Linked DNA regions of Homo sapiens. The protein of the gene in region 1 binds, or shares a complex with, the protein of each later gene. Each region holds a gene or a part of one and is shown in the gene's direction. Other genes may lie near its edges. The genes, in order: TAF3, TAF11, TAF13 and TBP.

Evidence for each region.
Region 2: TAF3 (region 1) and TAF11 share a complex: the UniProt entries of both Homo sapiens proteins name them as parts of the TFIID basal transcription factor complex.
Region 3: TAF3 (region 1) and TAF13 share a complex: the UniProt entries of both Homo sapiens proteins name them as parts of the TFIID basal transcription factor complex.
Region 4: TAF3 (region 1) and TBP share a complex: the UniProt entries of both Homo sapiens proteins name them as parts of the TFIID basal transcription factor complex.

What each region holds. Positions count from the first base shown.
Region 1 is NC_000010.11:8,010,505-8,017,131, forward strand, and holds the end of TAF3 (transcription initiation factor TFIID subunit 3), read left to right. Parts: intron 1-3,226; coding exon 3,227-3,333; intron 3,334-4,132; coding exon 4,133-4,247; 3' UTR 4,248-6,127; downstream 6,128-6,627. UniProt on the Homo sapiens protein: The TFIID basal transcription factor complex plays a major role in the initiation of RNA polymerase II (Pol II)-dependent transcription.
Region 2 is NC_000006.12:34,878,043-34,885,042, reverse strand, and holds part of TAF11 (transcription initiation factor TFIID subunit 11), read left to right. Parts: exon of another isoform or gene 1-1,605; coding exon of another isoform or gene 1,606-1,644; intron 1,645-1,962; coding exon 1,963-2,111; intron 2,112-4,666; coding exon 4,667-4,754; intron 4,755-4,979; coding exon 4,980-5,076; intron 5,077-6,322; coding exon 6,323-6,453; 3' UTR 6,454-7,000. UniProt on the Homo sapiens protein: The TFIID basal transcription factor complex plays a major role in the initiation of RNA polymerase II (Pol II)-dependent transcription.
Region 3 is NC_000001.11:109,065,990-109,073,048, reverse strand, and holds part of TAF13 (transcription initiation factor TFIID subunit 13), read left to right. Parts: intron 1-6,816; coding exon 6,817-6,914; intron 6,915-7,059. UniProt on the Homo sapiens protein: The TFIID basal transcription factor complex plays a major role in the initiation of RNA polymerase II (Pol II)-dependent transcription.
Region 4 is NC_000006.12:170,564,316-170,571,374, forward strand, and holds part of TBP (TATA-box-binding protein), read left to right. Parts: intron 1-229; coding exon 230-317; intron 318-2,602; coding exon 2,603-2,694; intron 2,695-5,296; coding exon 5,297-5,464; intron 5,465-7,059. UniProt on the Homo sapiens protein: The TFIID basal transcription factor complex plays a major role in the initiation of RNA polymerase II (Pol II)-dependent transcription.

The sequences.
Region 1 (6,627 bases):
CACTAATTATATTTTATTGGCTATGATCCAGAATATGCCAGGGCTTGCATATTAAATGGAAATGAACTTTGAGACCACAGAACTCCTGAGTATCCAAGCATGATTTCAAATTGTAAAACCAGCTGGACGCAGTGGCTTACGCCTGTAATCCCAGCACTTTGGGAGGCTGAGGCAGATGGATCACTTGAGGTCAGGAGTTCGAGACCAGCCTGGCCAACATGGTGAAACCCCATCTCTACTAAAAATACAAACAAAATTAGCTGGGCATGGTGGCACGTGCCTGTAATCCCAGCTACTCGGGAGGCTCAGGCACAAGAATTGCTTGAACGGGAGGCAGAGCTTGCAGTGAGCCAAGATCGTACCACTGCTCTCTAGCCTGAGGGACAAGAGCGAAACTCCATCTCAAGAAAAAAAAAAATTGTAAATCCCACCATGTCCACTGAGTCCACATTGTTCTGGGACTGTTTTTTAGTTTCTTACTCCCTGAATACACTCTGGCAGTAAAGTGTTTATACAGATTACGTTCTTTGGATACTATAGAATTAAACACACAAACACACAACGAAATATTTAAGGTGTGTGGAGCCATTGCCATTGCTGTGACTACCAACTCTGCAGACTGTGATGTGTTAGCCTACTGGTGGCCCTGACCTTGTAACTAGCTAGGTACTAATATGATTGGAAAGTGGCTGGGTAGGACTCATGGTATTTGTTGTTATAAACTGTACAATATTACATTTCTTTTTTTTATGTTTTCTTTTTTTCTTTTGAGGTAGTCTCACTCTTCTTGTCCATACTGGAATGCAGTGGCACAATACCACTCACTGCAGCCTCGACCTCCTGGGCCCCAGTGATCCCCTCACCTCAGCCTCCCGAGTAGCTGGGACCACAGGCGTCTGCCACCACAACTGGCTGTTTCTTGGCTGTTTTTGTTTGTTTGTTTTTGGTTTTTGTGGAGATGATGTCTCTCTGTGTTGCCCAGGCTGGTCTCAAACTCCTGGGCTCAAGCAGTCCTTCCACCTTGGCCTCCCAAAGTGCTGGGATTACAGGCATGAGCAACCACGCCTGGCCTATTATTAAATTTCCTTAAAGGAGTTTTGGAAGGAACTTCTAAAAGTGTGATCATCAAATTGGTCCATTCGGGGACCAATCATTGTAGGTGTTTAATTAGAGGCAACATCACCCCCAAATGGGTTGATCAGGAAAGATTTTGTACTTAACCTCCTTGACCTTCGTGTCTTCATCTGTAATTAAGGAGTTTGTGTTAAACTTGGTAATCTCTGTGGCATGTTCTAGCTCTAAAAGTTCTGGTTTTCCAGTAGATCTTTGAGCTAACTCACTTCCTGGAGATGAGTCCAACTGGAATAGACAATGTAGATGGAAAGCTTACTGGCTGTGCATGGTGTCTCACGCCTATAATCCCAGCACTTTGGGAGGCCAAGGCAGCTGTATCACATGAGCCCAGGAGTTGAGACTAGTCTGGGCAACATAGTGAGACCCCATCTCTGCAGAAAATACAAAAATTGGCTGGGCAGGGTGACATGTGCCTGTAGTCTCAACTACTCAGGAGGCTGAGCTGGGAAGATCACCTGAGCCTACCGAGGTCAAGGCTACAGTGAGCCATGATCACACCACTGCACTCCAGCCTGGGTGACAGAGTGAAACCCTGTCTTTAAAATAAAAATGAAAATTTAAAAAAAGCTTTCTACCTCATGAAGAGAGACGCTTTGTGGTTAGAGGACAAAATTTATGATTTAGATGACATACAAAGGCTAGAGAGCAAAAAGGCAAATTTTGTCACTGCCTAATGGTGTGATGTTGGAAATGCCACTTAAATTCCCTTAGCTCCGGTTTCCCCATTCATAAGCTACCCAGAGGTTGTTTTACAGGGATTAAATGAAATGAGATGTTTAGAAGAATTTAGTAAGCTATGAGGTATTTGGTATTAGTTGCTGTGGATGCCGTGGTGAAGTTCTTGTGCGGCACACAGAGTCACGGCCTTCTGACTTCAAGCAAGGTCAGCCAGCAGCAGGACTGGCCACACGTGGGAGCTTCAGGGCATAGGATGTTCCACCAGCCTTGGCCTCTAGACAGCAGGTACGGGTGACTGCTGGTTCTCACCCCTTGTTACTTTTTCTCCTGGAATTACGGAGGGTCAGAGATGTAGTTGCCCACAGATTTCTTTAGGAAGTTTTCCTGTCAATGTAGTTTGCCTTTGTAGAGTTGCCTTAAAGGAAGCCCATCACTACAGTGAAACATATATGGACCCCCAATGCACCTGTCACACACAAAGAAAGCCTTTCTAAAAGCATGTCTAGTCAGTGTGGTATTTGAAAGTCTGGGAAGAACTATCCCTTACAAAATAAACCGGATGCAATAATGTGCTCTGTTATTGTAAACACTTTGGAAGTTACCTTTTTCTTATTGCTGGTGTTGAATGCCCATCAGTGAATTAATTCTTCCAGGTTGGCTCTGTTCATGTGAAGTTTGAGGAAGTGGTGAATAGGATGTTCCCTCTTTAGAACTGCTAAGTTAAATAAAGTCAACTCTAGAGTACACAATATTTGTAGCAAAATAATGTTGAACCTTGTAGCTCTGTGGCCTCCCTATCCCCTTATTTCATTTGCCCTTTAGTTGATTGTACTTTACTAAAAATGTCATAAAGGGAATGGAAAGTTACTTAGTAACAACTCTTTTATATCCTTGATCTTATCAGCTCCTTCAGGAGAAGGGCTTGGCTAATAAGTAATAAGGTGGTGCATGCACATTTGGCTGTCTATATTAATTCCATGCCTATGAATGCGATTGAGAAAACCACATATAAAGTGGAGCTCTATAACTTTCAAAAAATCAGTTGTTACCACCCTTATAAAGACCCAAATCATTAAGAATTTACATAGTTATAGTTTTTTTTTTTATGAAAGGGGTTACAGGTCATATTGTTCACAGAGATGATTATAAAATGCTTTTTATGACTTACAAAAGAAAGCTTAGAATATTCGTTAGAAATGCCTTATCATTGAACACTTAGCGTTTTTCTGTTTCTTGATTCTAAAACAGTGATGACGCTGATCATGGCATTAATGAAGTGCTGATCTACTATATTTTTTAGTTTAATATGCCTGTTTATTCGGTTAACAGTATAAAGTAATCATTCTGATCTGGCCTCTTTTTGTTTTTTTTCCCATTCCCTCCATTTTTGCCGCTTCCGCTTTGCAAACATCAGATCCGAGATGAGTGGGGCAATCAGATCTGGATCTGCCCTGGGTGTAACAAGCCTGACGATGGGAGTCCCATGATTGGGTGTGACGACTGCGATGACTGGTACCACTGGTGAGTGCCCAGGGCGCCCTGCCGGCCACACTCATTAGGCAGCATCAGCCGCTCCTGAGATGAAGCATCCACTGAGTAGATTCCTGCCTTTGGACTGACCCAGGGCTGTCCTAGGGACAGTACATGGAGTCAAATCACTGAGCCTGTGAAGTGCAATTAACTGCAAAACCCAAGAGTGCTTAGACTATTGTTATTCACCCTAAATTCTGAATATTCTGCTTAGCTTATCTATCCTTCTTATTAAAAATAATAATACTAAAAGGAGATCCAGGGGCTTCCCTGGCCTTCCTTTCCAGTAATGTTCTGTAGGAGCTGTAGCACTGGCCAGGACCACGAAGAGGCAGCGCCTTTGTAAAGGTGGTACAAACTGCAGGACTAAAGACTGCTTATCTGTTTTTTAGACCTCTTCAGCGGTTCCTAAAAACTGAAAAGCTCAACCAGAATTTATGCAGATAATCTCGTGTTATCTTTAAAATGTCAGATACAAAAAAGATAGCAACCTGTTCAGTTATGATAGACGATATCTGTGAGATAAAGACAAAGCCGTGGCTCGGAAGACTTCTATTCCTGGCTGAGAGGATGAATGAACGGATGAGTCTCTGCAGGGGGCCTGTAAAGGGAGCATCTGTGATCTCATAGTCCGCATGCCCAACAATAGTGCTACACACAAGTTAGTGCTGCTTGACTTTGATTTCGGGTAAACATGTCATAGACTCTAAAAAATTACTTTAAAACATGGAAGGGAGAAGAATAGATGTCTGTATAAAAGTTGCTTATCTGAGCTTGTTTTCACGTGCAGGCCCTGTGTTGGAATCATGACTGCACCCCCAGAAGAGATGCAGTGGTTCTGCCCCAAGTGTGCGAACAAGAAGAAGGACAAAAAGCACAAGAAGAGGAAGCATCGAGCCCACTGACGACTCCCGAGGGGCTGGACCAAGCGGGGTCAGCCCGGGCTTCTTCCCTGGCGCCTCTGGAAGGGAGCTGGTGCAAGTCTGCCGTCACATCCACCCCCAGATGCCTGTGGATAAAGAACCCAGGAGGACTGAGGCTGGAACACACCGCGCACCTGGATTGTTCACTCCCGAGCCGCCTTGGCCTGTGGCTCCGTGGCAGTGCGACAGAAGGAAACTCAAGCAGAGGCGTGGCCTGGGGGCTGCCCCTCCTCCACTTCTCTAATACCAGTGACAAGTATTATTAATAAAGAGCGTACATCTTCCCTTTTGATTTCCTTTATTCTCTCCAGGGCCTTTTCATTGAGGTATTAGATGAGAAGATAATGTACAAACTGCCTCAACTGTAATTTAAGGATGATAGAGTCTGTATACAGTTTTCAGCCCCTTTCCCTCTATAGTAAGATAATCAGAATAACATAAAAGAAAACTCCAGTTGGAGTACCGGTAAATATTTTTGTGATAAGAATATATGAAGCTTCCCTCCTTCCCCCGTTTTTAGTACTAACATGTAAAATGTTCAGGCTTTTGTGAAATACCTTATATTTTTTAAGAAAAAGGTTTCTATCATGTCCTGTTTGCTTTTGTGCAAATTATTTTTGTTTAATGTATTTTATATCTTCGTTGCATTCTAATTTTGCCCTTCTTTAAACTGCTGGAGTCTCTTCTCACTGCTTGTACATTTCATCAACTTGTATAAAAACTCTTCAGACTAAAAGATTGCCCCTAATGTAAATAATAAATATTTATGAAGTAGTTATTTTTTAAATTTTTATCGTGTTTAATTCTGGCTTTCTCTGAAATCCACTGTGATTTCAGCCAGGTCTGTAATGACGCTGGACAGAAACAAGGCTAGAGAAAAAGCCATCGTTCAAAGAAATTTCCCTTGAGCTCAGCCTGCGCAGTGCCCGGAAACATGGTGGGGAAAGGGCCCGAGCAGTTGGAAGGAAAACAAGGCAATTTAAATTTAGAGTTTATGACTTGAAGTTGTTTTGTTTGTTGTCTATTTTGTTTTTGTAAATTTCTTTGACAGACTTTTACTAAAAGGACATGTAGTTTCCATGAAAGTAAAAAAAAAAAACAACAAAAAACCCACATATACTGTAGCATTTTGTCTTTATATTGTTTTATTTCTACAAATCTGTTCATTAATATTGTGCTTTAAGGCTGAAATGAAGTATATTATGAATTTTTTTAAGAAAACTCATCAAATTTCAGGGTATCACAAAACTTTATTATATTATTATACTGCCCACTATTTATTATATGTTATAGATGTCTGAGAGGTAAACCAAATATTTTATTTTTAATGTTAAAAAAACATCAAATTTAACTTTATTAGCATATTTTAGCAACTTTGGGATAAATACGGACTTTTACTTGATTTTGAAATAATCCCAGTGTAGGCCCATGTGCTGGATCTGTTGGATGCTAGAATATGGGCTTTGAACCTAATACAAATATATTACTAGAAAATGTGATTTTTTTAAATGCCAAGTAAATTGATATTAGTGTATGAATTAGTCATATTTTAAAACATTATGTGGTTAGAGAAATGCGGTTTTCTGCCATGAATGTTAAGTTGCAAATCAGTGGAAATGGAGTCGACCTCTTCGGAGCACAGGGTGTCATTGCCCTCGTTGTTCAAGAGGCCAGAATTTTTCTATCCCCGCTAAGAAACAAAGCATCTATGTTGAGATATGTGTTTTTTTGTTTGATTAATTTGAGATCATTCTAAATACTTTATACAATATTTTCACATGCACAAAAATGCGCGTTAGTGGTTTTTGGAGAGGGGTGAGGGGTGGGGGAAGTGCAAAATAAAGATTATTGGCTATTTCATAGTTTGCTTTTCCATTTTCTTTATTTAGGATTTAGTTCCTTGAGGCGTGGTCCATGATCTGAAGTTGCCACGTTTAAGTGAGCAGGTCACGCTACTGAAATCAGAATGGAGGTGCCTATATATAACTTTCCCCCCAATCTTACTGTCTGAGAGACTTCAGCCCATGCTACATTTAAGGAATTTCAATCAGTTTGTTGTCCCTTGCTATTTCATGGTTGCTTTCCTAAATCCAGTTCATGATTTTATAAATGGTCTTTGCAATAATAAAACCAAAGAATCATTTTCAGGGGGCTGGAGAGCTCGAGGGATTAGTAATGGAATACAGAGCCTTTCACCTCTAGGTCAGTGAGTCGGATCCAGTCCAGGTCACTAGAGACCAAAAGTTGTCACCATCTTATGACTGTTCAGTGGCCTGTGTGAAATGAACTGGTGGTCTCAGTCTCTACTGGGTGGCTGGCTGTGACACCAACCAAAGGAAGTTCAAGAAACTGCAAAGAGAAA
Region 2 (7,000 bases), on another chromosome or scaffold:
ACTAATGAATTAGCACATTAAAAAACATAAATGATAAAATTAAAACATTATTTAAAATGTAAATGTATAACATTACAAAATATGAAAGGCTATAGGCACTAATATGGAGATCTTTAAAGTTATAAAGACATTTAATGTTCAAGTTTAGGCCAAATAAATGTGAAAATCTGAGAAAAATAGGTGATTTTTTAAAGGAAAATACAAACCACCAAACTTGAAGCACAGTTAGAAAACTTGTATAAATCAGTAACTAAAAAGAAATTGAAAAGATTGTCAAAGATAGACTACCTTCATCCCACCTATTCCCATATTCCTGTATGAGTTTAAATTTGAATTCCTCTTTAGGGACAAGTTAAATCTCATTAATGAGTTTTGTAGTATACTTAAGATTCTACATTAAGTCAGAGGGGGTGAAGTTTGGATTTGATTTTTATTATTAAACAGCCAGTTTTTTAAGTTCAGGGGTACATGTGCAGGATGTGCAGGTTTTGTTACATAAGTAAATGTGTGTCATAGGGGTTTGTTGTATAGATTATTTCATCACCCAGGTATTAAGCCTAGTGTCCCTTAGTTATTTTTCCTGATCCTTTCCCTCCTGCCACCCTTCATCCTTCCATATACCCTTCACCCTTCCATATACCCCAGTGTGTGTTCCCCTCTATGTGTCCGTGTGCTGTCATCATTTAGTTCCCACTTATTAGTGAGAACATGCAGTATTTGGTTTTCTGTTCCTACATTAGTTTGCTAAAGATAATGGTCTCCAGCTCCATCCATGTCCCTGCAAAGGACATGATCTCCTTTTTTATGGCTGTATAGTATTTCATGGTGTATACTGGAAAATACATTTTCTTTATCCAGTCTACCATTGATGGGCATTTAGGTTGATTCCATGTCTTTGCTATTGTGAATAGCACTGCAATGAACATAAGTGTGGATGTGTCTTTATAATAGAACAATTTATATTCCTTTGGGTATATACCCAGTAATGGGATTGCTGGGTCAAATGGTAATTCTGTCTTTAGGTCTTTGAGGAATTGTCACACTGCCTTCCTCAATGGTGAACTGATTTATACTCCAACCAAGAGTTTAAAAGCTTTCCTTTGCCTCCACAACCTTGCCAGTATCTGTTATTTTTTGACTTTTGAATAATAGCCATTCTGACTGATATGAGATGGTATCTCATTATGGTTTTGATTTGCATTTCTCTAATCAGTGAAGCTGACCTTTTTTTCACATGATTGTTGGCCACAGGTATGTCTTGTTTTGAGAAGTGTCTTTGCCTACTTTTAAGTGGGGTTTGAACAGGCATTTATTAAACATCCAGCATAAGTAAAATTGCATTAAATGCTGATGGGGGGGAGATATAAATAATAAGAGACAAACCTATCTTCAAAAAGACTAGTAATGTGAAATAAACATTTGCATGAAACAGTAGGATTGAAGAATAAGAACAAAAGAGCACTACGTGTGAGAAGCTCACTTGAAAGTCCCAAATTGAAATAAACACTGTTTTGATGAGAAGGGGCCTCCTTTTTAATATTCTTTCCATGTGGAATCATCAGCAGTAAAGAGATCTATAGATCTGGAAGCAGAAGAGCTGGCTGGATGGAGGGGACTTTGCTGACATCCCCTCTGAAAAATAAGGTCAGAAGAGTGGGCCCGGGGGAGGGTGATTTTCATGATCCATGGCATTTCATTACCCTTGTAAACAGATACTGGAGCTGTGCTCATAGCCAAACTGGAAAACTAGATTATTTAGCAGGTTTTCTTTCCATAGCTGAGCCATAATCTTCCCTTAGGAGAGATACTGTATCTTATCCTTGATGGTACAGTCAGTGCCTAGAACTGAAAAACTACTCAATAAATGGATTTGTTGTTTTGTGATAAGGATGATGTCTTCTTACTTTGCCCAAGCCTGGAAAGTAGGCCAAATATATAATAGAGTTTCTTTCATCTTCCCAGCTCGAGAGTCAGGATGTCTCAGATTTAACAACAGTTGAAAGGGAAGACTCATCATTACTTAATCCTGCAGCCAAAAAACTGAAAATAGATACCAAAGAAAAGAAAGAGAAAAAGCAGAAAGTAGATGAAGATGAGATTCAGAAGATGCAGTAAGTCACTTTCTTATCATTCCCCATTTCGAGGCTCTCACTTGACCACACAAATTTAATAAATTTTTCTTGGTGTTTAAATTTTCTTTTATAAACTCAAAAGAAAATAAAACGATTAATACATTATGGCTGGGCATGGTGGCTCACGCCTGTAATCCCAACACTTTAGAAGGCCAAGGTGGGAGGATTTCTTGAGGCCTAAGTTTGAGACCAGCCTGGGCAACATAGTGAAACCCTTTCTCTAATGTTATGTTATGTTATGTTTTTTTTTTTATTTTTTATTTTTTTGAGATAGAGTCTCACTGTGTCGCCCAGGCTGGAGTGCAATGGTGTGATCTCGGCTCACTGCAGCCTCCACATCCTGAGTTCAAACGATTCTCATGCCTCAGCCTCCCGAGTAGCTGGGACTACAGGCATGCACCGCCATGCCCAGCTAATTTTTGTATTTTTAGTAGAGACAGGGTTTCACTATGTTGGCCAGGCTGGTCTTGAACTCATGACCTCACGTGATCTGCCCGCCTCGGCCTCCCAAAGTGCTAGGATTACAGGCATGAGCCACTGTGCCCGGCCTCTATTTAAAATTTTTTTTTTTTGAGACAGAGTTTCGCTCTCGTTGCTCAGGCTGGAGTGCGGTGGTGCAATCTCTGCTCACTGCAACCTCCGCCTTCTGGTTTCGAGCGATTCTCCTGCCTCAGCCTCCCAGGTAGCTGGGACTACAGGCTCCTGCCACCATGCCTGGCTAATTTTTGTATTTTTAGTAGATACAGGTTTTTGCCATGTTGGCCAGGCGGGTCTCGAACTCCTGACTTCGTGATCCGCCCGCCTCAGCCTCCCAAAATGCTGGGATTACAGGTGTGAGCCACTGTGCCTGGCCAAAAACAATTTTTTCAAATAATTATGTTACAGCATAGAAAATATAAATAGATAAAAAGAAGGCCGAGATCGGTGGCTCACACCTGTAATCCCAGCACTTTGGGAGGCTGAGGCGGGTGGATCACTTGAGGTCAGGAGTTTGAGACCAGCCTGGCCAACATGGTGAAACCCCGTCTCTACTAAAATTACAAAAAATTAGCCAGGTGTCGTGGTGGGTGCCTGTAGTCCCAGCTACTCGGGAGGCTGAGGTAGGAGAATTACTTGAACCCAGGAGGCAGAGGTTGCAGTGAGCCAAGACTGCGCCACTGCACTCCAGCCTGGGCGATAGAGCCAGATGCTGTCTCAAAAAAAATAAATAGATAAGAAGAAAAAATAATTACCTTACCACAGAGATATATCCTGCTTATAAGTTTCAAGATAGTTTCTATACATATATATCTATAAATTTTTTTTTCCACAAATGTCAAATACTGTTTTGTAGCCTATTTTTCACATTAGATATGGTGAATGTTTTCCATGTCACTAATTATACATCTAGGTCATAGTTTTCTTAAAAATAGAAATAGCTTTATTACATTTTCTGATTGTAAAAGTAGTATGGGCTCATTGCAAATAATTCAGAGAATACAGAAAAATAGAAAAAAATCACCCATAAACTCACCACGCAGAGTTCACTCTAAGTATATAGTTGGGTATAATGTTTGGGTATGTACCTTTTCAAAGTTTTTTTAGATGTTTGATATGTATAGCTAAATATTTTCATGTCAGTAAATATGCTCATAAATCATAATTTTTAATGGCTACATTGTATCCCATTATGTTGTTGAACTATAATTTAACCAATCCCTATAGTGCTTCTGGTTGGGTATTTTTACTTTTGACATTATGATGAGGATCTTTGGACATATCTTTGCATACTTGTCCATTACTTCCTAAGATAAACTCCTAGAGGTGTAATTGCTAATTCAAATAGTATGAACATTTTCAAAGGCTTTTCATATGTATTTCCAAATTTCTCTCCAAAAAGGTGTTCCAGTTCACTCTGCCAGCATGTGTTTGTGTCCCATATTCTAATACCATTCTTTTTTTAATAGTGGTCTGATTTATGAAAAATGTTATCTATGAAAATAATATTTCCTTAGTTAATAATGAAGGTTGTTTCCCCCATGTTGATTGACCATTGGTATTTTGGTAAATTTCCTGTTCATGTACTTTGTTCATTTTCAAAAATTGACATGGCCCCTTTATTCATTTGAAAGAATTATACATTAGGAGTATTAACTGTTTCCACATATTTTGCAGATATTTCCCCTAAATCTGTTAATGTTGAAAACTACTGGTTTGATTATAAATTTGTATATTAAATTTTTACCATCAGTGTGAAATTCAATAAGATAGAGTTATGGAGATAGTGTCTAATGCTGCAAACAGTCTGTGTAGTACGATACAGTGACCCAGTGTTGTTCTTTTTGTTAACAGGTAAGAAAAGAAGTTTTTGTTTTACGTTTTCTCAAATTCCTTTGGAGTAGAAGTGTTTTATCTTCATTCCTCAAGGCACCAAGCCTAATGCCATTGACCCCTTTAAGAATTCGTTTTTGAATTGTCTGAAACTTTTATTGACTTCATAATATCTTGAGTATTCGTTCTTATAAGTTAACTTAGTTACCTGGATCTTTGTTTAGAATCCTGGTTTCTTCTTTTTCTGAGGAGCAGCTGAACCGTTATGAAATGTATCGCCGCTCAGCTTTCCCTAAGGCAGCCATCAAAAGGGTAAGGATGGACCACCACACTTCATCTCCATCACGTTTTAGAACTGAACTCAAGAGCCATGTCCATTGGCATTTGAAGTGAGGTGTTAGACAAGTCAGGGGATTATTTAGGTGGGAAAAAAAATGCACTTCAGTTATCTTACCTTTTTCTGTGAATTACTTGGTACTGTGTTCCAAAGCCAGTCTTTGACTATTGTGATCACGGAGTCTTTGTGCTTCTTTCAAGCTGATCCAGTCCATCACTGGCACCTCTGTGTCTCAGAATGTTGTTATTGCTATGTCTGGTATTTCCAAGGTTTTCGTCGGGGAGGTGGTAGAAGAAGGTGAGTAGTGTTGGTTACAAATACTGGATTGTACCTGTGGTGGTCTTATTTTTAAGAATATCTACACAAAGGAGCTTATTAAAGCACCTATGGGAGTTCTCATTTGCACTTGAAGTTGACCAAGTGGGGAGCCCTTTATTTAGGAGAACATGACTGTTATTCCTTGCAAGTTTCAATAACAGATGGTAAGGAACCATCTGGGAAATCCCCTCCCTGATTCCTTTCCTCAGCCCAGGGTGAAAGAAGTAGACTTTGTATTTTCTGCAGTGGACTTTGCTCATTTCTGCTGCCAAAAGTAAAGATACAAGAAAAGCAATCACAGGGGTGACCTGTGTGGGATGGTGAGTTGTCCCTAATGTTGTGATCCCTAGGAACTGCCTGACCCCTTTATTGAGTAAAAAGCCTGGCTGTTTCCCATTGCTACTCTAGCTGGTGAAATTTTTTTTTTTTTTTTGAGCAGGAGATATATACTTTTAAATTATTATTATTTTTTGAGACAGGGTCTCACTCTGTCACCCAGGCTGGAGTGCAGTGGCATGATCTTTATTATTTTTTTTAATATTTTTTATTTTTCCTTTTACAAATCACAAATTAAGATGGTATACAAAATGAGATGGTAACAGTGGTGTGATCATAGCTCACTACAACCTCAAACTCCTGGGCTCAAAGGATCCTCTTGCCTCAGCCTCCCAAGTAGCTGGGACTGTAGGCGTGCACTACCATACCTGGCTAATTTTTAATTTTATTTTTATGTAGTTATTTGAGACAGGGTCTCACTCTGTCACCCAGGCTGGAGTGCCTTGATCATGCGATCACAGCTCACTGTAACAGTTAGCTCCTGGGCTCGGGTGATTCTCCTGCCTCAGTCTGAGTAGTTGAGACCACAGGTGCGCACCACCACCCCTGGCTAACTTTTTAATTTTTTGTAGAGACAAGGTTTGGCCATGTTGCCCAGGTTGGTCTCGAACTCCTAGGCTCAAGCAATCCTCCCACCTTGGCCTCCCTAACTGCTGGGATTATAGGCATGAGCCACAGCATATGGCCTATAGGAAATATATTTTAAACTGTTGTCTATGATAAAGCCTGTTATGAGACGTTATACTAATATTCTCTTAAAAAGGAAAAATGTCTGTTTATTTCCTTAGCAAGCTTAAGAAAAGTTAACAAGAATTACAGGACTCAAAAGGATTATGTGATTAGTAAATTATTGTGTGATAATCAGACTTTCTCCTTACCCTCTGTTTAGCACTGGATGTGTGTGAGAAGTGGGGAGAAATGCCACCACTACAACCCAAACATATGAGGGAAGCCGTTAGAAGGTTAAAGTCAAAAGGACAGATCCCTAACTCGAAGCACAAAAAAATCATCTTCTTCTAGACCAAAGTCTAGAAAGGCCTATGTTACTGACGGAAGAAGTATTGGTTCCAGACTTCCTATAAGACTGTCTGCATTGGTGCTTTAGTATCTCAGGCCTCCAAGGATTCCATGATGATTTTAATGTCTTTCTCAAAACTCTGATATTTGTCACACCTAGAAAGTATGTAGCCTGATTGATACTTGCCTTGACTAAATTTTGGGACCTCTTGGGGCATTTTGAAGTATTTAACTGTCTTGACCAGTTGGAAGAAGATACGTGGGCCATAAGCATCTTCTGGACAGGGGAACTGCTTTCAGAGAGAAAACCTTTCCAAGAGAGTTTTGTTTTGTTTTGGTTTCGTTTTGTTTGAGATAGGGTCTTGCTCTATCACCTAGGCTGGAGTGCAGCGGCATGACTGCAGCCTTGAACTCCTGGGCTTAAGTGACCCTCCCACCTCAGTCTCCTGAGTAGCTAGGACTACAGGCACACACTACTGTGCCCAGCTAACTTATTTTTATTTTTTATGGAGATGGGGTCTTGCTTTGTTGCCCAGGCTGGTCGTGAACT
Region 3 (7,059 bases), on another chromosome or scaffold:
TAAGAAGGTGGTGAACAGCTGGGTGCAGTGGCTCACGTCTGTAATCCCAGCACTTTGGGAGACTGAGGCGGGTGGATCACTGGAGGTCAGGAGTTCGAGACCAGCCTGGCCAACATGATGAAACCCCGTCTCTACTAAAAATACAAAAATTAACCAGACGTGCTCGCTTGAACCCAGGTGGCAGAAGTTTCAGTGAGCCAAGATTGCGCCACTGCACTCTAGCCTGGGTGACACAGCAAGACTCTGTCTTAAAAAAAAAAAAAAAAAAGGTGGTGAATCGTGTAAGGCATTATAGTGACATGGAGGCTAGATGCAGTGGCTCACGCCTGTAATCCCAGCACTTCGGGAGGTCAAGGCAGGCGGACTGCTTGAGCCCAGGAGGTCAAGACCAGCCTGGGCAACATAGTGAAACCCTCTCTCTACAAAAAATACAAAAATTAGCAGGGCATGGTGGCATGCCCCTGTAGTTCCAGCTACTCTGGAGGCTGAGGTGAGAGGATGGCTTGAGCCCAGGAGGTGGAGGTTGCAGTGAGCCCAGATTGCACCACTGCACTCCAGCCTTGGTGACGAAACCAGACCCTGTGTCCAAAATAAATAAACAAATAAAATAAACAATAACATGGAGATTATAATGTATTGATTCTCCATCCTACCCCCTCAGTAGACGGTTTTGACCCTTTTTGGCAACACGAGGAAGGGAGAGCTGCTACTAATACTGATGATCCAGGCCAAGCCCTGGAACACAGCATGAAAATGTGCTCTCCATCTCCCAGTCCTGGGTCCTTTATGTAAAGTTATGTCTAAGTATTGAGAGATGAGGCCGCACAGATTTATGAATATGATTTATTTAGGCTGGGTTATATGTGAGCAGTTCCCAAATGCCCTTGAAACTACAGGGTCAGTATATATATATATATATATATATATGTGTGTATATATATATATATATATATATATATATATATGTGTGTGTATATATATATATATATATATATATGTGTGTGTATATATATATATATATATATATGTGTGTGTATATATATATATATATATATATATATATATATGTGTGTATATATATATATATATATTTTCTTTTTGAGACAGAGTCTCACTGTTGTCAGTCTGGAGTGTAATGGCGCAATCTTGGCTCACTGCAGCCTCTGCCTCCTGGGCTCAAGCGACTCTCCTGCTTCAGCCTCCTGAGTAGCTGGGACTACAGGCACATGCCACGACGCCTAGCTAATTTTGGTATTGTTAGTAGAGACAGGGTTTCATCATGTTGGCCAGGATGGTCTTGATCTCTTGACCTCATGATCCGCCGTCTCAGCCTCCCAAAGTGCTGGGATTACAAGCATGAACCACCGTGCCCAGCTTCAGCGTCAGTGTATCTTTTTTAAGAAAAATTATTTTCTTAATTTTTATTTATTTTCTTAGAGACAGGGTCTCACTCTTCTGTCACTGGGGCTGGAGTACAGTGGCATGATCATAGCTCACTGCAACCTTTAACTCTTGGTGTCAAGTGATCCTCCCACCTCAGCCTCCTGAATAGCTGGGACTATAGGTGCATGCCACCATGCCCAGCTAATTTTTTTTTTTTTTTTTCCTGAGATGGAGCCTTGCTCTGTCACCCAGGCTGGAGTGCAGTGGCGTGATCTCGGCTCACTGCAACCTCCACCTCCCAGGTTTAAGCAATTCTCCTGCCTCAGCCTCCCAAGTAGCTGGGATTACAGGTGTGTGCCACCATGCCCGGCTAATTTTTTGTATTTTTAGTAGAAACGGGTTTCACCATGTTAGCCAGGCTGGTGTTGAACTCCTGACCTCAGGTGATCCACCCCACTCGGCCTCCCAAAGTGCTGGAATTACAGGCGTGAGCCACCGTGCCTGGCCACACCCAACTAATTTTTGTATTTTCAGTAAAGACAAGTTTCACCATGTTGGCCAGACTGGTCTCAAACTCCTAGGCTTAAGTGATCCTCCTGCCTCAGCCTCCCAAAGTGCTAGGATTACAGGCATGAGCCGCCAGACACTGTTTTATTTTTTAAACATCCAAATCCTTTTCCATATTTTGTTTCCTCACTAATGCTGACCATTTCTTATTTCATTTCTCTGATGCTCCTTATACCATTATGTGGTTTTTACTTATTAGGTCAGCATAAGAAGGGGATCCTTGTACCAGAGCATCCCAGAGTGATGTTCAGTCGGTTGTTAGCAAAGACCTTTGTTCCACTGAGATTACTTTGTGATGACAGGAATTTGTAATCTTCAGGCTTCTCCTTATCTTACCTGAATATTCATAGAAGTTACTGACGAAAGATCTATTCTCCTGAACCTTTAAAAAAAAAATTTGGGGGGGACTGGGTACGGTGGCTCATGCCTGTAATCCCAGCACTTTGGGAGGCCAAGGTGGGAGGATCACTTGAGGTCAGGAGTTCAAGACCAGCCTGGCCAACATGGCGAAACCCCGTCTCTAATAAAAATACAAAAATTAGCTCGGCGTGGTGGTGCATGCCTATAATTCCACTACTCAAGGGCCGGGCACGGTGGCTCATGCCTATAATCCCAGCACTTTGGGAGGCTGAGATGGGCGGATCATGAGGTCAGCAGATCCAGACCAGCCTGGCCAACATGTTGAAAACCCATCTCTACTAAAAATAGAAAAATTAGCTGGGCGTGGTGGCCTGCACCTGTAGTCCCAGCTACTTGAGAGGCAGAGGCAGGAGAATCGCTTGAACCCGGGAGGCAGAGGTTGCAGTGAGCCGAGATCACACCACTGAACTCCAGCCTGGTGACAGAGAGAGACTCCGTCTCAAAAAATAAAAATAAAAAAAGAAAGCGTCAAGGTTTTGAAAGATGAAAAAGTCAAGGAACTATCGGATTCGAGGGAACTAAGGAGGCATGACAACTAAATAGTATGGGAACCTGAAACAGAAAAAGGACATTGGTGGAAAAACTTGTAAAATCTGAATGAAGTCTGTACCTGTACCGATGTTAATTTCTTAGCTTTGATGACTCCCTATGGTTGTATAACATGTTAACATAAGGGGAAGCTGGATATAGGGCATATGGGAACCCTGTACTATTTTTGCAACTCAGCTGTAAATCTAAAATTATCTTTTTTTTAAAAAGGCAAAAAAAAGTACAGAATCCAAAACAGAACGATAGGAACTATTGGCTCCTGTGTTTGTTTTTTTACTCCTGTTTCTGGACCTAAAGACTCTTGCCAGTGTAAAACCCTAGGGATATGTCTATCTCAGGCTGGTTTCCAAGTCACCCTTTTCTTCTGTAGGCCTGGTCTACTTTCTTCTCTTTGTACTTCTACTAGTTTTTACTTCTTCTAAATAGAGGAATTATTCTTAATTTACTCATTTCTTCCTTTAGAAGTATTCTATGAGTATCTTTTTTAAAAAAAAAAACTTAGGTACAATAAATTGTGCAAGTCTTAAGTGAACAGCTTGCTGAATTTTATGTATGCTATACAGTCGGCTCTCTATGTCATGGGTTCTGCATCCATGGATTCAACCAACCTCAGATGGAAAATATTCAGAAAAAAAAACTGTGCCTCTATTGAATATGTATAGACTTTTTTCCTTGTCACTATTCCCTAAACAGTATAGTATAACAACTATTTACATAGCATTTACATTGTATTAGGTATTGTAAGTAACCTAGAGATGATTTAAAATATACATAGGATGTATTTAGCTTATATGCAAATACTATGCCATTTTATATCTGGGATTTGAGCATCTGCAGATTTTGGTATCCACGGGAGGTCCTGGAACCAAGCTCCCAAGGATACTAAGGGACAACTGTATACATGTGCGCACACACACACACACACACTCACACACTTGTAATCACTACTAAGATCAAGATACAGAACACTTCCAGCATTTGACAGCATTTCTTACCATTTACATATACCCCTTTGATAATCTGATAAAAGTTATAATTATTCCCAGAAAAATGCCCATGTACAGATAATGTATAAAATTTTTCCGTATGATTTCAGGGTAGTCTCAAGGACTTCTTTTTTTATTTTTTGAGGCAGAGTCTCCCTCTTTCGCCCAGGTTGGAATGCATTGGCATGATCTCAGCTCTCCGCAACCTCTGCCTCCTGGGTTCAAGCTATTCTCCTGCCTCAGCCTCCCAAATAGCTGGGATTACAGGTGCGTGCCACCACGCCCCCCTAATTTTTGTATTTTTAGTAGAGACGGGGTTTCACCATGTTGGTCAGGCTGGTCTCAAACTCCCGACCTCAGGTGATCCGCCCACCTTGGCCTCCCAAAGTGCTGGAATTATAGGCGTGAACCACCGCGCTGGCCTTCAAGGACTTCTTAAAGCTTGTCTCTGGACTGGGAGTTTATAGGCGATAGGATAAGAACCTCTGTGGATCTCAGCTGGGTGTGGTGGCTCACACCTGTAATCCTAGCACTTTGGGAGGCCAAGGCAGGAGGATTACTTGAGTCCAGGAGTTCAAGACCAGCCTGGGCAACAAGGTGGGACCCTGTCTCTACGAAAAAATAAAAATAAATAAATAGTTAGAAACCAGTTCAAAAACTGCCTAGGCAACATAGCAAGACCCCTGTCTCTAGAAAAAATTTTAAATGGCTGGGTGTGGTAGCTTAGGCCTGTAATCCCAATAATTTGGGAGGCCAAGGCAGGCAGATCACTTGAGGCCAGGAATTCAAGACTATCTGGGCAACGTGGCAAAACCCTGACTCTACTAAAAAATACAAAAAAATTAGCTGGGTGTGGTAGCGCATGGCTGTAATCCCAGCTACTTGGAGGCTAAAGTTTGAGAATCTCTTGAATCCGGGAGGTGGAGGTTGCAGTGAGTTGAGATCGTGCCATTGCACTCCACCCTGGGTGACACAGTGACACTTCTGTTTCAAAAAAAACCCCACATATTAGCCAGGCATAGTGGCATGTGTCTGTAGTCTCAGCTGCTCACGTGAGCCAGGGAGGTTGAGGCTGCAGCAAGCTGTACTGCAACACCACTCCAGCCTGGGCGACAGAGCCAAGACTGTCTCAAAAAAGGAGAGCAAAAAAAAGAATTCACACGGATCCTGTCTGCCCTAAACTACAACTACCAACAAGTGCGATGCTGTTGTGGGTATGAGTAAAGACGCGAACCAGATCAGCTGGGTTCAAACTCAGGTTCCATCTCTTACTAGCTTTGTGACCTTGGGTAAATCAGTTACTGCAGTGCTTTAATTTTCTCATCTATAGAATGGGGATAATCAATAGTTTCTACCTTAAAGGATCATTGTGAGGATTAAATGAGTTATATATGTAAAGGACTTAAGACAGTACCTGGCATATAATAAGGGCTATATATGTTTTATCTTTTGGCAGTTATTTTTATTTGTCTGTATTAGACTTCTCTCTTATTATTTTTGAGACACAGTCTCTCTTATTATTATTATTATTTTTGAGACACAGCCTCCCTCTGTCACCCAGGCTGGAGTGCAGTGGCGCATTCTCAGCTCACTGCAACCTCTGCCTCCTGGATTCAAGCGATTCTCATGCCTCAGCCTCCCGAGTAGCTGGGATTATAGGCATGTGCCAACACCCCCAGCTGACTTTTGTGTTTTTTTTTTTTTTTTAGTAGAAACAGGTTTTCACCTTGTTGGCCAGGCTGATCTCAAACTTCTGGCCTCAAGTGATCTGCCTCAGCCTCCTGAAGTGCTGGGATTACAGGCGTGAGCCACCATCCAGGCCTACGCCCAGCTAATTTTTGTTTTTTATGTAGAGACAGGGTTTCGCCATGTTGCCCAGGCTTGTCTCAAACTCCTGAGCTCAAGCAGTCTACTTGCCTGGGCCTCCCAAAGTGCTGGGTTTACAGGCGTGGGCCACTGCACCCGACCTAGACTTATCCTTTGCATTTCCTATGGTTTCTTCAGATGAAGCCTGAAAGGGCTTTGCTGCAGTTGTATTGATCTAGGAAATGTCAAAATTCCTTGTAGTAAGCCCTCTGCTTTCTCATTTTGAGTACCCTGTTTCTTCCTATAAGAACAGATTTGGGGCTGGGCGCGGTGGCTCACGCCTGTAATCCCAGCACTTTGGGAGGCTGAGGCACGCAGATCACCAGGTCAGATCATCGAGACCATCCTGGCTAACACAGTGAAACCCCTTCTCTACTAAAAATACAAAAAATTAGCCGGGCGTGGTGGTGGGTGCCTGTAGTCCCAGCTACTCGGGAGGCTGAGGCAGGAGAATGGTGTGAACCCAGGAGGCGATGGAGCTTGCAGTGAGCCAAGATGGTGCCACTGCACTCCAGCTTGGGCGACAGAGCGAGACTCTGTCTCAAGAAAAACAAACAAACAAACAAACAAAAAAAGTATTTGGAGAACTGTCTCTCATGTCTTTTCCCCTATGGTAATATCAGTAAAGAGTCTGCCGTTTTTCCAACGCCCCACTGCCATGCCCACACACAAAAACCACCTCCAAAAAAGGCTAAGCTGTTGCTGTCTGTCCTGTCCTTTGCCAGAGTTTCCTACTTAAAGGTGTTCTGCTGGGGGCAGGGACTGGTAAGTAGATGCTAGAGATTAGGAAAAGACTGTTTACCTTAGGGTTCAGTAGGTGGGAGGAAGGAAGAGTTTTGCTGGAGGCTACGTGGGAACAGTTGGTCATCAGACTGTTCTTAAACCTTTTACACAAGAATCCATACTTGGAGATAACAAATACGATGTAAATATGTTTTCATACCAATATTATCTATAACTTGGTTCATTTCTACTTTATTTTTTTAAAGTATCAAATTGTTAAATCTGTAAAAGTAAACAAAAGTAAGTGATTGTTCTTTTACAGTGCGATGTATGATGTATGGCTTTGGGGATGACCAGAATCCTTATACTGAGTCAGTGGATATTCTTGAAGATCTTGTCATAGAGTTTATCACTGAAATGGTAAGATTCTTTCCTAACTGGTCTTAGTTAATTGAAGAATAGATTTGAAATATTAAACTTTAGGTAAGACTAGAACTTATGGCATCCCTTTGAAATAAGCTATCCATTTGAGTGCTTGTTTGCAGAAGTTATTGGTTACTATTTA
Region 4 (7,059 bases), on another chromosome or scaffold:
AATGTGGGAATACTGGTAACTTCTACCTCAGTGCGTTATATGTATTAAATGGAATAATCTATATAAAATGCTCAACATGTGCATGATACTTGTTAAACAATAAATGTGAGCAATTAAAAAAAAGTAAAGCCTGGTTGAAATAATCAGATGTCTGCATAATTTCTAACGCCTCATCCAATGAAACTTAAGTAATTTAAATAGTCGTGTTTTCTTTTTAAATCTCTTACAGAAATATTGTATCCACAGTGAATCTTGGTTGTAAACTTGACCTAAAGACCATTGCACTTCGTGCCCGAAACGCCGAATATAATCCCAAGGTTAGATCTATTTTAATGTATTTCTTTTTTTTTTCTTTTTTGTCTCCTCTGCCGTGTCTCTATATTTTAATGTATTTCACGCTATAAAACAAATGTCTGTAGATCAGGCCAGGCACAGTGGCTAATGCCTGTAATCCCAGCACTTTGGGAGGCTGAGGAAGGAGAATTTCTTGAACCTAGGAGTTCACCACCAGCCCAGGCAACATGGCAAGACCCTGTCTCTTAAAAAAAAAAAAAAAATTGGCCGGGCTTGGTGGCTCACACGTGTAATCCCAGCACTTTGGGAGGCCGAGGTGGGCGGATCATCTGAGGTCAGGAGTTCAAGACCATCCTGGCCAACATAGTGAAACCCCGTCTCTACTAAAAATACAAAAATTTGCCGGGAGTGGTGGCATGCGCCTGTAATCCCGGCTACTTGGGAGGCTGAGGCAGGAGAATCACTTGATCCTGGGAGGCAGAGGTTGCAGTGAGCGGAGATTGCGCCATTGCATTCCAGCCTGGCAACAGAGCGAGACTCCGCCTCAAAAAAAAAATCTGTATATCAAAGAGTTTGTGTTATGCTTATTCCTTGACACCAATAAAATGAAGATCTAAAGTAAAATGTGCATTGTTTTGTATCTTTTATTGAGTGTCTGTGATATAAGAATCCCTGGGAGTACAGCAGTCTATAAAATAAGCTAAGTTATATATGTATTGTATTGGGATCATGTGAAGAATTTTGTATATGTATAGGGATGATGTTAGCCAGCTATAGTAGGCAAAGTAATTTGGATAAACATTAGCTGGGTTGAGAGAAATGTTAAGTAATGGACTTAGGGTGCATTTTAAAATCCCTGAAACATAATGCCTGAGATCTGAAAGACAGCTAAGGGTCTGAAAATCACCTTTTAACCACTCATAATGAGTCTGTATGACATGTAGCATTCTAAGAATTAATCTTTCATCTATTATAATCACATTTAGTTGAATACATAATTTTATTACTTTACGTTCTTAAGTGATATTTAACCAATAAAAATAGTAGAGGAAATTCTGGAAATTCAAAATAGCTAGGCTTTTCCTGGGACGTATATAAACTACTATATACTGCTAGCTTTTTTAGATGTTGATAAAATCACAGGGAAGACATAGAGCAGGTTTTAAACTAAAATTGTTAAAAGCCAGGCATGGTGACTCAGACCTGTAATTCCAGCACTTTGGGAGGCCAAGGTGGGAGGATCACTTGAGGCCAACAGTTCAAGACGAGCCTGGGCAACATAGCAAGGCCTTGTTTCATCAGAAAATTTAAAAAATTATCTGGGGTTGGTGGCACACACCTATAATCCCAGCTACTTGGGAGGCCAAGACAGAAGGATCTCTTGAGCTCAGGAATTCGAGGCTGCAGTGAGCCATGATTGCACCACTGCACTCCAGTCTGGGCAACAAAGTGAGACTCTTGTCTCTAAAAAAAAAAATTAATAAAATAAAAAAATAAAATTGTTAAAGCAATCTAGTTTGTCAAAGAGTCGTCTTAATTAGAAACATGTAGGTTTTTATTGTATAATTAAATGTATTAAAATATTTAAGTTGTTTCAAAGTAATTATTTGCTTTTTATCATGTACCTAATAACTGAGGCCATTAATTCAACCCACAGTTGAAATATTTTCCCCTTGAGTTACCACCTTAGCAAGAAAATTTTCTGAAAGAATTAACATGTTTCAAGCATAAAAAGCAGAAAATAAAAGTTAAAACTGTGTTTTTTTCCTAATTTGCATTTATGTGTTTAATACATTAATATTGTTTCTAAAGACCAATTGAAAGCATGATTTTACTTCATTACGTATTGATAGGCTTGTAATCTGATTTATTAATTCCATTAAGGTAGAAAAGGTTTATTGGTTTATTTGCCTCAAAATTCATATTAATAAAACAAAATGTATCAGAGAAGCTATAGTCATGATAAGCAGCAAATATAAAGTAGAAACAGAAGCACTTGTATTTATTGAGAACATAACCAAATTTTGCAAACATTTCTCTTGATGGAATGCTCATGTGAAAGAACATACAGATTTGGTATAACTTAGTCACAATTGATTATTTTCTGCTCCTTATGCAAAGGAATATTTGTTACATGTGGTGTATGCAAATCCTTTACAGATATACAGAAATACAGAACAAATATTTTGATAACTAGATGTACTATGTCCTTCCTACCAGTTGTGATTTTTTTGTCAATGGGTGGTTCGCCTAACAACATTGAGCAGTTTGGCATGACCTCACTAATGATTCTCTCTGACCATTGTAGCGGTTTGCTGCGGTAATCATGAGGATAAGAGAGCCACGAACCACGGCACTGATTTTCAGTTCTGGGAAAATGGTGTGCACAGGAGCCAAGAGGTAGCCGTAAGAAATTCATTCTTCTGGTCTATGGGTTATGAATGAAAAGGTGATATCTCATTGTTTTTAGGTTATTAGGTTAGCACTTTAACATGTTATTATTGCTTTCTTATAAAAACCATTTTAATATGATTCTATTAATTATTTTTATTTATTTATTTATTATTTGATTCTATTAATGTTAGATAGCAGTGATTTCATTTTCTTAAAAATTAGATATGGGCAGGCGTGGTGTCTCACCAAGGCGGGCAAATCACTTGAGGCCAGGAGTTCGAGACCAGCCTGACCAACATGGTGAAACTCCATCTCTACTAAAAATACAAAAATTAGCCAGGCGTGGTAGTGGATGTCTGTAGTCCCAGCTACTTGGGAGGCTGAAGCACGAGAATCGCTTAAATCCGGGAGGTGGAGGTTGCAGTGAGCTGAGATCATGCTACTGTACTCCAGCATGGGAGACAGAACAAGACACTTTCTCCAGAAAAAAGAAAAAAATTAGGTAAGATGTAATACAACATCAGAACTATTAATAAAATTCCCTTTATGTGAAAAATGTTGTAAATAACACAAATACATCTTGAAATGGAAGAAAAAATTGATCAAGAATTAAAACACTTCTAAGCTAATGGTGTAAGGGCTTTGCAGACCTTATTGGGCCTGGCAGCGTGACAGCATCACATGTGTTGGCTGCAGAAACCTGCCTTCTCACTGGAACTAGCTTTCATTAATAGTGTTTGAGTTGTGCAGATCTTAAGGAATGCACCCTTGTTATAAAATGTCATTGCCTATATTCTCCATCTGAAGTGATCCTGTCTGAAGGTTAGTACTCTGCGGCCCTGACTGTTCTAAACAGAGCTTATATACTTGGTAGAAGTCAAAAACTAGGGGGAAAATTAGTGACATTAGCTTCATAAATGAACTGAACAAATAAACTAAAACTTTTTAAATGAAAGAGTATTAAATGTACTTGGAGGTATCAACACATAGAAGGGGGCTGTGGATATTTTTGCTTATTCTGAAGTTTGAAATTGTCTTTCAGTGATGGGAATGCCATTGGTGTGGACATTCTGGCTCCTGATCTCCGAGGTTTTTCAGAATGCAGGACAAGGATGTGTTCTTGCCTTTCACTTCCCCTTGGCCACAACATGCAGTAGTAACCTCTTTAATTAAGAGCGTTTTTGTTTGCTTGTTTTCCCCTGCATGGAACATCAGAAACTTTTGGTTTATCAAGGCAAGCTTTTCATGCAGCATTTAGCCTTTTTGTCCCAGAGCATCTGAAAACTGAATATTGTATATGTAGTTGGATGACTATTTCATCAAGACAAGAAACCACCAATACATTTACCTGAAATTTAAAAGCGTAGCATATATATATATGCTTGATTTTTGTTCTTCCTGATCCCCTGCACCTGATAGTCTCTTTATGGTAATATTTTCACATTCTTTTTTGTTGTTGTTGTTGTTTTTGAGATGGAGTCTCGCTCTGCGCCCAGGCTGGAGTGCAGTGGCATGATCTCGGCTCACTGCAAGCTCCGCCTCCTGGGTTCACGCCATTCTCTTGCCTCAGCCTCCCGAGTAGCAGAGACTACAGGTGCCCACCACCATGCCTGGCTAATTTTTGTATTTTTAGTAGAGATGGGGTTTCACTGTGTTAGCCAGGATGGTCTCAATCTCCTGACCTCATGATCCGCCTGCCTCAGCCTCCCAAAGTGTTGGGATTACAGGTGTGAGCCACCGTGCCCGACCTGCCTGCCTGCCTTTTTCTCTTTTATTTTTTCTTTTTTTCTCTTCTTTCTTTCTTTCCTTTTCTTTTTTTTTTTTTTTTTTTTTTTTTTTGGTGGAGTCACCTAGGCTGGAGTGCAGTGGCACAATCTTGGCTCACTGCAACCTCCACCTCCCAGGTTCAAGTGATTCTCCTGCCTCAGCCTCCCAAGTAGCTGGGATTGCAGGTGCCTGGCACCATGCCCAGCTAATTTTTGTATTTTTAGTAGAGATAGGGTTTCACCATGTTGACCAAGCTGGTCTCGAACTCTTGACCTCAGGTGAGCTATCCGCCTTGGCCTCCCAAAGTGCTTGGGATTAGAGGCGTGAGCCACCATGCCTGGCCCACATTCTGCTTTTCTTATGTAAGCTCTGAACTGCTAAGTCGTAGTTTATTCAACAAATGACATAGGAATGTCTATTCATGATGAGTCTTGGTATAAAAGAGGATAGAATTAGTGAATACATTGTTCAATAATAAATCTCATCAACATTTTCTGATCAAAATGAAGTTTGTTAGTTTTCCTCTCAGTAGAAATGCATGGGCTAAAATACAGAAATAGTGATGACTGATGATGGTGATAATTCACATCCATAAAATCTAGGGCTACAATAATTTGGCGGATTGAAAGGTCATTTTGGCAGGCCTACAGTTTTCTGTCAAGGATCCAGGAATACTTTATAAGGAATTGTGAATGCCTGTCAGTCTTTTCTCCTATTGCAAGAAGGCTGACCAGTTTACACTTTATTAGTTTACTGTTTTGGACTTTTTATAAGTTATTAGTCTAAATAAGTATTTTAGCTGGCTCTGAGTATGAATAACTCACTTTTTTCCTTTCCCTAGTGAAGAACAGTCCAGACTGGCAGCAAGAAAATATGCTAGAGTTGTACAGAAGTTGGGTTTTCCAGCTAAGTTCTTGGACTTCAAGATTCAGAATATGGTGGGGAGCTGTGATGTGAAGTTTCCTATAAGGTTAGAAGGCCTTGTGCTCACCCACCAACAATTTAGTAGGTAAGTCTGAAATGTATTATGATTGTTATTGGCAACAGTTCATTTATAATCTAAACATTGTTCAGAATAAAACACATGCAAAATATTCAGTATATGAGAACAGTTGACATGGTTATAGTTGTATGTATTCTTGCATTGTCTTCCTGATGTTCTCAGTCATATTTATCACCCTCACCAGCCTCTGCTTCCCTTATCACTTTGCGGTACCCATAACTCCCCTTTACTGGAATGAATTTGATTCTACTTCTGTATGTTTTATCGTTTTATTGCTGAATACACTTGGAATGCATGAATTGACCCTAACCTTGTATCAATTTTTTTTCCCAGTTTGGATCTTCTCTTTTAGTCAACATTGTGTCAGATCTACCAGCAAAGTGTGAAGTTGAGCGATAGGAACAACTTTCTAATTATCTTCCCTGCTACTTGCAGGTGAAGACTCACAGGCAGGCAGCCCTGCCCACCTCACTGCTTCATCTCATGGTCTTCTGGTGTCTGTTCACAGGCACATTAGTTCTGTGTGCCCCTGGGGCTCACTTGGTTCCTCCTGCCCTAGGCCTTTGCACTTGCCACTTTTATGCCTAGTATGCTCATTTCCCTTTTCACCTAGGAAGCTCCCACTTGAGTTCCATATGTCTACCCATTCCACTCTTCCTCAGAGAAGCCTGTCCTGAATTTTGTCTTAGGTCAGACACACAGAAACAGAGGCATCCTGTTTTCAGTCTCTCCGAACTGAGAAAAATGAGATTACTAGGCTTAGAAGAATATGTACCAGGCCTGGCCTGGTGGCTCACACCTGTAATCCCAGCATTTTGGGAGGCCGAGGCAGGCAGATCAGTTGAGTTCAGGAGTTCAAGACCAGCCTGGCCAACATGGTGAAACCTCGTCTTTACTAAAAATACAAAAATTAGCTGGACATGGTGGTGCATGCCTGTAATCCCAGTTACATGGGAGGCTGAGGCAGGACAATCATTCGAACCCAGGAGATGGAGGTTGCAGTGAGCCAAGATCGTGCCACTGTACTCCAGCCTGGGCGACACAGCAAGACTCCGTCTCAAAAAAAAAAAGAATATATACCAATAGTCCATTCAGTCAGACAGCTTAATCAGGTATAGGTTAATTCTCAGGCTAGTATATAAGTTTGATTAAATTTCCTGACCACAATTGTCAGCTAGAGAATATTTCAATTTAAGGAGGTAAGATATGATTAAAAGTTAAACTGTCAGTATTGGATCTTAGAAGTAAATGATTATTAGGACTGTAATAGTAATTATTAGGACTGTAAAAGTAAAGGATTATTATCTGCATTAGATATCATTATATCTAATGATATAGAGACTGCAGACATAACTACAGGGCTCTTTTTCTTAAATCAGAAAATCCAGATTCAATAGAAATAGGGTAAAGTGATAGGAGGACAAATAGCCTTCCATCCAGTGGTTATCAACTGACGACTACAAGTCGGCCTCACTTGCTTTAATTATTCTATTCTATCCTTTGATGCTGCTTGAAGAACTGTGTTTTACCTCTTGACTAGTTTGTTTATTCAGTATTTTTCCTTGTACAGGTCCTCATTTTATCTAAAAGCACACAAAGCT